2 linked regions of the Homo sapiens genome follow. The protein of the gene in region 2 purifies or fractionates together with the protein of the main gene of each other region. This does not show direct contact. Each region holds a gene or a part of one and is shown on either strand. Other genes may lie near its edges.

Evidence for each region. Proteins that work in one complex are often made in the same cells at the same time.
Region 1: the proteins of RIOK1 (region 2) and CLNS1A purify together in Homo sapiens (affinity purification with mass spectrometry; 3 studies listed by BioGRID and IntAct, with this or other methods). This does not show direct contact.

What each region holds. Positions count from the first base shown.
Region 1 is NC_000011.10:77,627,795-77,634,794, forward strand, and holds part of CLNS1A (methylosome subunit pICln), read right to left. Parts: intron 2,106-7,000; coding exon 1,969-2,105; intron 1-1,968. UniProt on the Homo sapiens protein: Involved in both the assembly of spliceosomal snRNPs and the methylation of Sm proteins.
Region 2 is NC_000006.12:7,412,780-7,419,413, reverse strand, and holds the end of RIOK1 (serine/threonine-protein kinase RIO1), read right to left. Parts: intron 6,526-6,634; coding exon 6,472-6,525; intron 5,177-6,471; coding exon 5,024-5,176; intron 2,084-5,023; coding exon 1,973-2,083; 3' UTR 1,377-1,972; downstream 1-1,376. UniProt on the Homo sapiens protein: Involved in the final steps of cytoplasmic maturation of the 40S ribosomal subunit. Involved in processing of 18S-E pre-rRNA to the mature 18S rRNA. Required for the recycling of NOB1 and PNO1 from the late 40S precursor.

The sequences.
Region 1 (7,000 bases), on a different chromosome or scaffold from region 2:
ATGACTTGCCTAGCAAGTTAATGACAGAGTTCTTACTTTTTTTTCTTTTCTTCGACCGTTTTGCTCTGTTGCCCAGGCTGGAGTGCAGTGGCGCGATCTCAGCTCACTGCAACCTCCACCTCCCGGGTTCAAGTGATTCTCATGTCTCAGCCTCCCGAGTAGCTGGGATTACAGGCACCCGCCACCACGCCCAGCTAATTTTTGTATTTTTAGTAGAGACAGGGTTTCACCATGTTGGCCAGGATGGTCTCGATCTCTTGACCTTGTGATCTGCCCCCCTTGGCCTCCCAAAGTGTTGGGATTACAGGTTTGAGCCACTGTGCCCGGCCTAATGACAGAGTTTTCTTATTCAATGTGCTTTTGCCCTTAGGCTAGTATTTATTAAATGCTATTTCCTAAGCCTTTCTCTTGGCATGTACCTTTCCCACCTCCAATGGCCGTCACTATTTGGGGCCATTTCACACCAGCATCTGGAGTTGACTGACAAGAGCAAGGTTTCGCATTTCTGCAAATGAATGAATGCTTTAAACTAAACATGACACATAATATTCTTGGTTATAAAATCATAGTTGCATTTACTTAGATGGAGAGTAAATTTTGTGCCAAATGCCTTATTAGGAAGTCTTACTACACTACTACACCCCAAGGTTAACAGCCTTTTACTTTTCCTCATCCTCTTTTTCAAACTTCACTAGATTTTTAAATGTCTTTGAACCTTTTCCAATGGCAAGAATTTGAAATCTTATAACAAAAATATTTTCAGATAGCTGAATCAGTCATTACCACTTAATGAGGCAGGTCTTGCCAAAAGTCCTAAGAATTACTAAATAGTTTCACACCTGAATATAAATGATCATATTATATCTGGAACCATATTAAAATCTAAATTTGAAAGAGCAATAGCCTTGTAGGTAACTTCATAGGATTGTCTCTTACACACTACTTCAAAGAAAAGCAACCCGTTATTTTAAACATGAGCATCTTCACTAGACTTTTACAAGTCTTTGCAATTATCCCAAAGCAAAACTTGAGAATCTTTATATCCTACAGTTTCTCAACCTTGGCACTACTGACATTTGGATGGAATAATTCTTTGTTGTGGGGGACCATCTGTGCATAGCAGAATATTTAGTATAATAATAGCATCCTTGGCATCTAACTGCTAGACACCAATAATACCCTTCCTCTTTCAACCAAAATGTCACTGCCAAATGTGGGGGAATGGTGAGGTTGGTGGAGGCCCATGGAAAATATATCCCCCCTACAACCACTGAGACCCACTACTGAAACAAAACAAAACAGTTCTATCTTAAATTATGAGAAGCACAGGGTATACTGATCCAAGCCCCTAAGGGTGCCTTTTAAAAAGAGAAAGGCAGAATAAACAGTGAAACTTTAGAGGAAAAGCTAGAAATACATATCCATAATAAATGAAGAATTCTAAGTGTAAATATAGAGAAATATATACAGACACACATGAACATCCATTGTGAAAACTTCAAGTGTCCAAGTTGCTGTGCTGAAATTTTGCTTAATAAACTACTACCCAAAATGAGTCAATGGCCTCAATGTTACATTGATTATTATCAAAGACTCTTTTTTTTCTTTTTTTTTTTTTAGACGGAGTCTCACTTTGTCGCCCAGGCTGGAGTGCAGTGGCATGATCTCGGCTCACTACAAGCTCCACCTCCCAGGTTCACACCATTCTCCTGCCTCAGTCTCCTGAGTAGCTGGGACTACAGGCGCCCACCACCACGCCTGGCTAATTTTTTGTATTTTTTAGTAGAGACGGGTTTTCACCGTATTAGCCAGGATGGTCTCGATCTCCTGACCTTGTGATCCGCCCGCCTCGGCCTCCCAGAGTGCTGGGATTACAGGCGTGAGCCACCGTGCCCGGCCTCAAAGACTCTTTTTTAAAATATAATTTGCTATCAAAGGAGGCATTAGATTAAATTACACCATACATACCTTCAAATTTGGCATTCACCATAACATACAAATGCTCTCCTAGACAGTCACTTCGGTCCCTGGATAATGCATGTAAACTAATGGTGGGGTATTCCAGTGAGAATCCTAATCCAGAGCCATCTAACCAAGACAGGCGGCTGAAAAACATGTTTTAAGTAGATTATTTTTAGAAAGTAAATCCTCATGTAAGACCACAAAGTATATAAAAGTTCAGCTTGGACACCTTTATGCATATAAATAAATTCAAGTTTACTTTTTTAGAAACGTTCATAAAATAAGAAAATTCAGTAGTGGAAACTGAGTTTTCTTTAAGATCAATTCTGTTACGGTCTCTTTCCCTCTAGCTATAAATTCAAACAGACTTGAAATTCCATTTTCCTCAGTCACATGTATGTTTCTATGACTTTCATGCTTACTCTTTTTTGGTATGTCTTCAAATACCCTCTTTGCTTTTGCAAATCCTCCCCTCTTCCATGAGGCCTCCCTTCAACTACACCAGTCCATAAAGATCTCTTCCTTTTCTGATTTGCAAATTTTAGCACTTAACTCTGTGGTAATGAGTCTTATATGTGCCCTTATGGAATGTGAACTATCGGACAGCAGAACTTGTCACATTCCTTTATTAACATCCTTCAAAACCGTTAACAAAGAGCTCAGGAGTTAAGTATGCAATAAATCCTTGGTAATCATGCATTTCTCCATGAATCCTACACTAAAAGACATATATATGAAATGGCTGTAATCACACTCACCGCAAGTCAGGAAATAATTATTACCCTGAGAGACAGATTCCCTGAAGCCTTTCATTTATTCAACGTCTTTAAGAGAAAGCCACAGAAAAGCTAGATCTAGTTTTCCCTCAAATGTGGTCAAATGCAAATATTTTATTGGTGTAACAAAGGAAACACATCACCAAAATCAGTATTTTGAGCTTTCAGTAGAGGCTAGCTAATTTTCTGATAATACTTCATCCATCTGGAGCTGTACCACTTAGCAGAAAAAAAGTAAAAAATCCTGAAGAAGTCAAAAAAAAAATGTTAATGCAATATAGTGGTTGCCTAGGGCTAGAAGGAAATAGGGAATGTCTGCTACTGGGTACCAGGTTCTTTTTGGGGTGAAGAAAATATTCTAAAATGGTGGTGATAATTGCACAATTCTGTAAACAGACTAAAAACTAGTGAATTGTATGTTTAAATGGTTAAACTGTATGCTATATGAATTATTTTTAAAAGTTAATGAAGTAAGACCCCTGTATCATTCTATATTCTATACAATTTTAACAAGCCTGGCTGTCTAATTTCTAACCAAGCAAAAACAAAAGTAAAACAGGAGAACCTAGGACTGCCTTGGGCAGGAACAATGACAGTGTGACAGTCTGAGATCACTCATGTTCAGTGGAAGGGGAGGATGAACTTTCCACCTCAGTTCCCCTAAATGAAATCAATGTCTAACCACATGACCCTCAGTTACCGAAAGCATTACCAAAAACAAAGGCAGATTATTAGATTGTGGTGATAACTGTACAACTCTGTAAATATACTAAAACTTACGTAATTGTATACTTTTTTTTTTTTTTTTAGACAGAGTCTCGGTCTGTCGCCCAGGCTGGAGTGCAGTGGCGGATCTCGGCTCGCTGCAAGCTCCGCCTCTCGGGTTCACGCCATTCTCTTGCCTCAGCCTCCCCAGTAGCTGGGACTACAGGCGCCCGCCACCACACCCGGCTAATTTTTTGTATTTTTAGAGACGGGGTTTCACCGTGTTAGCCAGGATGGTCTGGATCTCCTGACCTCGTGATCCACCCGCCTCGGCCTCCCAAAGTGCTGGGATTATAGGCATGAGCCACCACACCCTGCCCCTAATTGTATACTTTCAAAAGGCAAAAGTAAGAATATATGCACTGTCATGTGGAAAGATTTCTATCCAACATTCTTATTAAAAAAAAAAAAGTAAAGGAAAACTAGGAAGCTTATAAGTGATAAATCTTTGTTTTTTTGAGATGAAGTCTCACTCTGTCACCCAGGCTGGAGTGCAGTAGCATGATCTTGGCTCACTGCAATCTCCACCTCCAGGGTTCAGGCGATTCTCCTGCCTCAGCCTCCCAAGTAGCTGGGATTACAAGCGTGTGACACCACGCCTCGCTAATTTTTGTATTTTTAATAGAGATGGGGTTTTGCCATGACGGCCAGGCTGGTCTCAAACTCCCGACCTCAGGTGATCTGCCACCTCGGCCTCCCAAAGTGCCAGTATTACAGGCGTGAGCCACTGCGCCTGGCCTAAAAGTGATAAATCTTAAAGAGCTAAAAGTGATAAAACCTCTACAAATTGTTTTCCAGAACAACTCATTCCTACTGGTTCCAAAGAAACATTGTATTATGTAATGAGGTTATGTGCTGTATGCATCTTTCCTGCCCACTGCTTTCCTTTTAATGTGGAGAGGAAATAATGCCCAAGTATCACGAGTCCCCTACAAAAGCTGTATTATTTTAAAGCAAATAAACTGCCCTTTTCTGATCTCAAAAATTTTCTGGCGTTATCACAATTCAGAAAGAAACATTCCAAATTTGGGTGTCCAAAATAATTTCAAATATCCAGAGCCATAAAACTTGAATGACTCAATGACGACATGGAAAAACTGAAACCTAAACATAGAATGAGTGCCTATCAAATTATGGCCTTCACTTTTAAAAGCCATCATAATACCTCTGTAATTCCTTACTAGTGCAGAGAGAATACAAATGCTCCTCTGCACAGCATTTGCTATGGAACTCTCATAATCTTTTACATGAACTGGGATTATGCATTCTATAGGACAGAAGCCAAGTTCCACACTTAAAAACACTTATTCTAATCGTTAAATTCTTTTTTTTTTAAATAAAAAAAGAAAAGAAACCCTAGGTTTCTGTATTTTACTTTTTCAGATTTACAAATGCAAATCATATATTAATATTCACAGATATTTTTAAATGGGAAAACAACTTACTTTCAACAACTTATTTTTTCCAACAGCATGTTACTATGTTAAAAAAGATTTGACATTATAAGCCGAGCGTGGTGGCTCAGGCCTATAATTTTGGGAGCATTTTGGGAGGCCGAGGTGGATGGATCACCTGAGGTCAGGAGTTCCAGACCAGACTACCAACATGGCGAAACCCTGTCTCTATTAAAAATACGAAAATTAGCTGGGTGTGGTGGCAGGCACCTGTAATCCCAGCTACTTGGGAGGCTGAGGCAGGAGAATTGGTTGAATCCAGGAGGCGGAGGTTGCAGTGAACCAAGATCACGCTACCACACTCAAGCCTGGGCAACGGGGAGACTCCATCTCAAAAAAAAAAAAAAAAAAAAAGAGATTTGACAGTACATTCATTTAATCTGGCAATTTTAATTTGAACAAATACCTATTAACAACAAATTAAATCCTATTGCACATGAATTATTTGTTGCACCACCACCAGATTTTCTAATTCTAGCAGAGGCCACGATGAAATAGGCCAGACATGCTGCCATTAAAGTTTGCTGGGATGATTGTAATAAATCTACTGAAAGTATTCAAGTTCTAACTTTCAAAGTGATGTAGAGAAACATAAAAGATTTCACTGTATCATCTAAAAATATAACTGTTTTGTCTGATCATTAAATTCTGATTTGCATTTACTCTTTGTATATATTCTAGAAGAAATCCTTCTAAAACATTTAATTAATCATACCCAGTTCCAAAGAAACCGTGAGTCAAAAGGGAAAGACAAGAAGAATTAGACACAGAGTAAACATGTAGAGAACATGTTTTGCTGAATTCAAATGCTTTTGCACAAGTATGGTGAGTGTCCTTTATTCCCAGCACGGGATGAAAAACAGGACAGGAAGCTAAGAGAGGTCTTGAATTTGGGTTAACTTAATTATTTGGTTTAAGATTAATTTTGGAATGAGATACAAAAAAAAAATTTTAAGTTTAAATTACCTAATTTTAATTTGATTACCTATTTTACCTGTTTTAAACTGTCTATTTTATATTATTCATGCCTCTGTATCTTCCTTATTTGGATAAAAATTCAACTTCCTGGCCGGGTGCAGTGGCTAACACCTATAATCCCAGCATCTTGGGAGGCCGAGGCAGATGGATCATCTAAGTTCGGGAGTTTGAGACAAGTCTGACCAACATGGAGAAATCCCATCTCTGCTAAAAATACAAAATTAGCCAGGCATGGTGGTGCATGCCTGTTAATCCCAGCTACTCGGGAGGGTGAGGCAAAAGAATAGCTTGAACTCAGGAGGCGGAGGTTGCGGTGAGCCAAGATTGCGCCATTGCATTCCAGCCTGGGCAACAAGAGTGAAACTTCATCTCAAAAAAAAAAAAAAATTCAACTTCCTATAAAAAACTAAGCTCTGAAATAAGCCGGAGATTCTAAATCTTTCAACACAAATCTGAGAGACTAAACCAAGTCCAGCCAAACCTAATCTGTTGCTGTCCCTCTCTGCCTCAAACTAAATAGTTTCACCAAAGCCTAAAGGCTATAAGCCAAATTTATGAACATGACTCTCTCCTTCTCCAGCTTTATCATCTCTGGGCATTCTCCCTCACTCCCTCAGATGAAGAACGGCTGGACTGTATATATATGTACACAGTATGTGTGTGTATTTATACCCTTTTTTTGTATTTATGTTTCACACACAAAAAAATTATTTTGGCCGGGCACGGTGGCTCATGCCTGTAATCCCAGCACTTTGGGAGGCCAAGGTGGGTGGATCATGAGGTCAGGAATTTGAGACCAGCCTGGCCAACATGGTGAAACCCCGTCTCTACTAAAAATACAAAAATTAGCTGGGCGTGGTGGAGCACGTCTGTAGTCCCAGCTACTCAGGAGGCTGAGGCAGGAGAATCGCTTAAACCCGGGAGGCGGAGCTTGCAGTGAGCCAAGGTCGCGCCACTGCACTCCAGCCTGGGCGACAGAACAAGACTCTGTCTCAAAAAAAAAAAAAAAAAAAAAATCTTAAAGAAGAAACATAAGAGATTTGTTTGTGAAAAGCTGAAACAAAT
Region 2 (6,634 bases):
TCTTCATTACCAACTCTTGATGTTTTACAAGTCACTTCCTCCCAGCAGCAATGTAAGAGAATGAACTGCCCCACAATCTGGCTATTGCTACATCTGGCCAAGTGGCACTGATTCCAAGCTTGGAAACTGCATGAGATTCAGCAAAAGACAGCACTGAGCAGCTTGACCTCCTAATGCAAACATACCATGTCGGAGAGTAAGATCAAAACAAACACAAGAGTTAGAAGATCCTGAAGATAAACTCCCCAGATGTGTGCAGGATTGATATCTGCTTTTGCTTTTTCTTTTGTTGTGCTAACTGTAGACTATTTTAGAGGGATTATTTTTGTGTTTCATTGAAATTATATTTCATATTTTGAACTTTATAGTCAAAATAAACATAAAGAGCTCAAATGATTTCCCCCTATAACCCACTGTCAAATAAGCAGGGGCAAGCTTCAGTTTAAGTGAAAACTAGGGGTTGATTTATAGAAATTATTTCTAAATGCAATGACTACAAGAGTCACTTCCAACATAAAGTATATCATTAAAAAAATTAAATTGGTAATTTCTTTTAGTATCTGTACTATGTTGTGATGTAAGGTTTTATCTCACCCTCCTACCCTCCCCAAACCTGCTCCCGTCCAGTCTTTCCCATCACAGTAAGTGGCAACTCCAGTCATCTCAGTTGCTGCTCAGGTCAGAAACCCTGAAGTCACCCTTCACTCCACGCAATCTCATCTCTTCCCTTAGAATGTGCAACCACTTCTCTCATGTCTGCCACCATCCTATACCAAGCCATCAGCGTCTCTTGCTTGGGTTTACTTCAATGAACATACCCACTGGTCTCCCACCCTTGCTTCCTGATCAATTCTCCACAGAGGCCAGAGTAATCCTTTTAAAACAGAAGTCAGATCATATCACTCCCCTGCCAAAACCCTCCCACAGCCGTACACTATCTGATTGCATCTACTACTTTCTCCCTTGATGATGATGTCTCAGCCCTGTTTCTGGAAGATGTCACGTACACTCCTGCCTCAGGGCTTTGCAACTGCTGGTTGTTCTGCCTGGCATGTTCTTCCTTCTTGTTATGCAAACAATTCACCTTCTTCAAGTATTTGCTCAAATATCAGCCCTCAGTAAGGCCTTTCCAAGAACCCTATTTTAAACTGCAAACTCTTTCATCTATAGGCGCCCTCTCATCTCTGCATTATTTCTCTCCATAGAATTTATCACCTGCTGATACACTGCTTTTTACTTACTTTGGTTAATGTCTTATCTTCCTATCAAAATGTAAACTACTCAAAGGTAGTAATTTTTGTCTAGTTTGTTTTCTGCTGTATCCCCAGCAACTAAAATACTCAAATTTTTGATGAATGAATGAATATGCCAAATGATTGAATTGTAAAAAACTTTATGAACTGAGAGGTCCTAACTCCAAAAAGAACATTAAAGACGAAGTGTAAGAGCATTACAAATGATCGCCAATACACACAAAGGCAGAGTTGCAGTGAAAATCAACAGCCAGCTGAACTGTGGGTGAAATTCCCTTTATATAAACATGGCCTTATAATCAGATGACCTCAGATGGGTCTCTGGTGTGTACAAAGAAAGCAAAACCAATTTTCCCATGAGTGCCTCTGGACACTCATGTAAGAGTTACAGATGTTGACTACATTTAAACATTTATCATGCTTCCAAAAACATATTTGTAAGAGAAAAAAATATAAAAATAAAAATGTACAAAGTTCTTTATTAAAATAATAGCTTAAATAAATCCTCTGTCAACACCAGACAGAGTCAGTGACTGGATCTAGACTCTAGAGCTTAGAGCTTTTTACATAGTTACATGAAAACATTTGAATCCGTCTTCACAGACAGTGCCACGATGACAATCTGGTTAAAACCAATAAGCCATCTTCCAGATGCAGCTTAAGAGTTCAGGCGAGAAAAGGAACTGAGGAAAATGACTGTACATAATATGGTTCTCATTCTATTTGCCTTTTTTCGTCTTGGCTGTCTTCTCCTTTCTTTTTTTCACATGTTTAGGAATTTTGTTTTTTCTTTTCTCTCTCTGGGCTTCCTTGACCATCTTTTTTCTTTCCTGTAAAAAACAAACAAAAAAGCCAACTTTCATTCATTTGGAGTATGCATTTTTTGTTTTTGTTTTTTGTTTTTTGTTTTTTAGACAGGGTCTTGCTCTGTCGCCCAGGCTGGAGTCAGTGGCGTGACCATGGTTCACTTCAGCCTCCACCTCCTGGGCTCAAGCAATCCTCCCACCTCAGCCTCCTGGGTAGCTGGGACAACAGGTGTGCACCACCACACCTGGCTAGGTTTTTTTGGGGTATTTTTTGGTAGAGATGGGGCTTCGCCAGATTGCACAGGCTGGTCTCGACCTCCTGGGCTCAAGTGATCCACCCACCTTGATCTCCCAAAATGCTGAGATTACAGGCATGAGCCACTGCACCCACCTGGAGTATTATTATGATTATAACTAAATAAAATACACACATAGAAGAATAAAAGTGAGTGTAATGTAAAGAAAAGAAAAGAAAATGATTATGGGTTGGTGGAGGAACTTGGGGTGAAAACTGTCTTTCAGTTTTTTCTTTTTAGAGACAGGGACTCACTCTGTCACCCAGGCAGGAGGGCAGTGGCATGACCATTGTGCACTGCAGCCTCAAGCTCCTGGGCTCAAGCAATCCTCTTGCCTCAACCTCCCCAGTAGCTGAGACTACAGGCATGAGCCACCATAACCGGCCTTGAGCTTCCTCTTTTTTTTTTTTTTTTTGAGACGGAGTCTCTGTCGCCCAGGCTGGCATGCAGTGGCGTGATCTCGGCTCACTGCAAGCTCCGCCTCCTGGGTTCACGCCATTCTCCTGCCTCAGCCTCCCAAGGAGCTGGGACTACAGGCGCCTGCCACCACGCCCGGCTAATTTTTTGTATTTTTAGTAGAGATAGGGTTTCACCATGTTAGCCAGGATGGTCTCGATCTCCTGACCTCGTGATCCACCTGCCTTGGCCTCCCAAAGTGATGGGATTACAGGCGTGAGCCACCGCGCCCAGCTGAGCTTCCTTAATAGAAATGTGAAGACAGCCAAACAGAAATATCCCTAAGAATGTTATTAAATGTTTGCAAATACTTTTCTTTACAAGTTCCATATTCTAACAGAAATAGACATTGGAAAGAGACAAAATATGTGTTTCTAGTAGACATATGAGAAAATATGCTAGCAGCTGAGTATGTCCCTCAGAAGTCTTGGGACCCACATTGTATAAGGTTTAAAGGATTAGACTAAGATGGAATAATAATAGTCACATAGCACTCAGTCAGCAGTGTCTCTATGTCTATGGCTAGGGATTAAAGAAATACAAGAGTCCCTTCTTATCCATGGGGGATATGTTCCAAGACTCCCAGTGGATGCTTAAGACTGTGGATAGTGCCAAACCCTATATATACTATGCTTCTACCTATACATACGTACCTATGATGAGGTTTAATTTATAAATTAGGCACAGTAAGAGATAATAACTAATAACAGAATGGTAACAATATACTATAGTAAAAGTTATTTGAATGTGGTCTCTCTCTCCAAATATCCCACAGTATCATACTCATGTGACAGTAGCTTCTTCATTGGCAGATGCAGCCTCTCTGGTAATTTTTCTATTTTTTAGTCCAAACCTATTCCTGAATCTGTGTAACTATTCCTTACAGTAAATGGCCTGGTGGCACTCATTTCAGGGGAACCCTTGCTGAAACCTTTGAAACCTTCGTATAGGCTCAGTGCTTTCTGGTGCAACATGGTGCCATCAACTGGAAGATGTTTTTGTTTACGTCTTTCACCCACAAATTTCATGCCTTTTCCATCTTAACTAAGCAGTTATCACATGCTATGGTCCTAAGTTTTGCAGTTTGGGGTGAGACAGCAAAACCAGCACAAACATCTTTTTCCTTCTCCACAATGTCACGGATAAAAGATTCTCACCAGCAACTTCAGCATATGATTCTTTTCCTTTTATTTATTTTTTTGAGACAGAATCTCACTCTGTCACCCAGGCTGGCGTGCAGTGGCATGATCAGCTCACTAGAACCTCAAACTTCTGGACTCAAGGGATCCTCTTGCCTTAGCCTCCCAAGTATTTGGGACTACAGGTGCTCATCACCAATGTTTTAATAGAGACGGGGTATCACTCTATTGCCCAGACTGGTCTGGAGTGATCCGCCCTCCTTGGCCTCCCAAAGTGCTAGGATTACAGGCATGAGTTCCTTGTTAAGTCAAGAATGGTCACCTTTCCACTTAAAGGAAGCATTTTATGGCTTCTCTAAAGCATACCTGAAATTCCAACATCACTACTCCTGTAATTTACGGTCATTATTAAGCAAAGTAAGGGTTACTTGCACACAAGCACCACAACATCACAGCAGCTGAACTGATAGCCAAGAAGGCTACTAAGTGACTAACGGGTGGGGAGTGTCGACAGTGTGAAGACGCTGGACCACGTGATGATTCACATTCCAGGCAGGATGGAGGAGGACAGCATGAATTTCATCACACTACTTAGGACGGTGAGCAATTTAAAACTTATAAATTGTTTACTTCTGGAATTTTCCATTTAATATTTGCAAACCAAGGCTGACTGCAGGGAACTGAAACAGTAGAAACTGAAAGCATGGATGGGGGGACTATTATATGGTCTTTCAGATTCCAGAAACATCAAGCTGGGCTATAAATCCCCCTGAAATGGCTCTTCAGTATTTACCCTGGGTCAACTCTAACATCACTTGTACTTCATGTGAAATGTACTGAATTTAGTGCGTGCTCTCTCTAGGCAATGCCCAAGGTGCTCTGATGAGCAGCCCAATCTCAAGATAATGTTACCACCAAAAGTCAAGTTCACACTTAGGTATTAAAACTGTAATTAGAGGTACTTATCAATAATGTTTTCAGCCATCATAATCTAGCTAGATCCTTGAGCAAAGAGAAATAAGAGCGGCTGTGCTCCCACACTAAAGAAAAGGGGAAGGTATTTCATTGCTTACTTTTTTATCAATGTCAGGGTCCGTGGTGTGTTTCTTGGGGCGGGCATGGTCTCCCTGCTCTTCAGAGTCTGTGTCAGAGCACTCAGAGCTTCCAATATCTTCTGAATCAGAACAAGTCCTTTCCTCCACTTGATTTTCTAGGAGTGCAGGGACCTTGAAATTATTAAAGAACCATGTTATTCTAAACAACACACAAACCAAGTTATGTGTTGTTGTTAAATGTGTTAATGCCAGAATTCAGATTTTAGGCTCGCAAATATATGTTAAAAACTAACATCCTGTACTGAAACATCAAAACACCAGAATGAACATCAGGAGGGAAACATGAAAGTAGCCACTCCAAGTAAGGCTCCAGAACATACTCAAATGAAGGAACCAGGGCTTTACTGCGTGACCTAGATCAACAACAGAGCTGTTCTCCTTCTTTCAGCTAATCAGGAGCATTTAGTTGGGATTGGGAAAGAGGCAAAATATACATAGAGGTAGAAAATGAAGATTTATATGGATAACTTCACAGCTGTTTTCCTGTGAACCACATTTCTAGCAATAAACTAATCCAATTGGGAGGGAAAACAATATGTGAAGAAGAGAAATTTTCATTACTTCCTGAAATTCAGCAGTTGTCTAATACAGCGCTTCCTAGCAGTTTTTAAGAGTGAGGTTTCCCTTTTATAAGAAAAAAACAGATCTTTAGAAGTCAATTGTACAACAAGATTTTCTAGCTTGCTGCAATAAAATCTTCATGCTCTGGAATCCAAAGCATAACTTCCTTATGACACCTGTTATTATAACTCAGAAATGCAAAATACCAGAATTCCCCTAATTCAATTCTTTCCACAGAAAAGACATGATTTTAAGAAAGCAAACTGTGATCCTTTATTTAAGTCTTCAATTAGGAAGATTTAAAAAAATAAAGACTGCTTTTATGACTGCCTAAGTTAGAATTACTTAATCCCTGCCCTTCTAAAATGTAAAACAAAACAAGATTGTTTTAAGAAAAAAGAACATCACAGGAATCCAGCACAGCAGGACTTGCTGAACTCATGAGATTGTTCTTTAACAAGTAATACCCTGGTAGGAGACTACATTCCAAAGTTCTCCTAAGCTGGTTGTAAAACCATCAAGAAGCACAATGGCTATCATTAAGAGCTCCACAAATGACGACCAGGATACAAAAAGATAAATACCTCACCTGCAATCACTGAACAATTCAGAGACAGAAAGAAAAATAAATTAATTTCCAAATTTCAGTGCTGTGTTTAGAAAGAACACAAAAATGGCATTTCTGAAGATGTCCACAGACTTTGAAAGCAATTATAACATTTTAACAATATAAAATAACATTTAGTTCTAATAATATTAAATAATAATAAAAAACAGTATGACTAGAGTTTATATCCTTTAAAACTGTTTTCACATAAACAAACAGTAACACATGTTCTTCATACCTTCTGAACTCCTGACAAATCTTTCTTCAATCCTGTAACAGTCTGGTATAGAATCTTATAACCAAAATGAAAAAAAAAAAATAAGGATCAACATAAAACTAGACAATGAAATATGCATATTGCACTATTAAGAACAATGTGGGTTAAATAATGTCTCCTATGA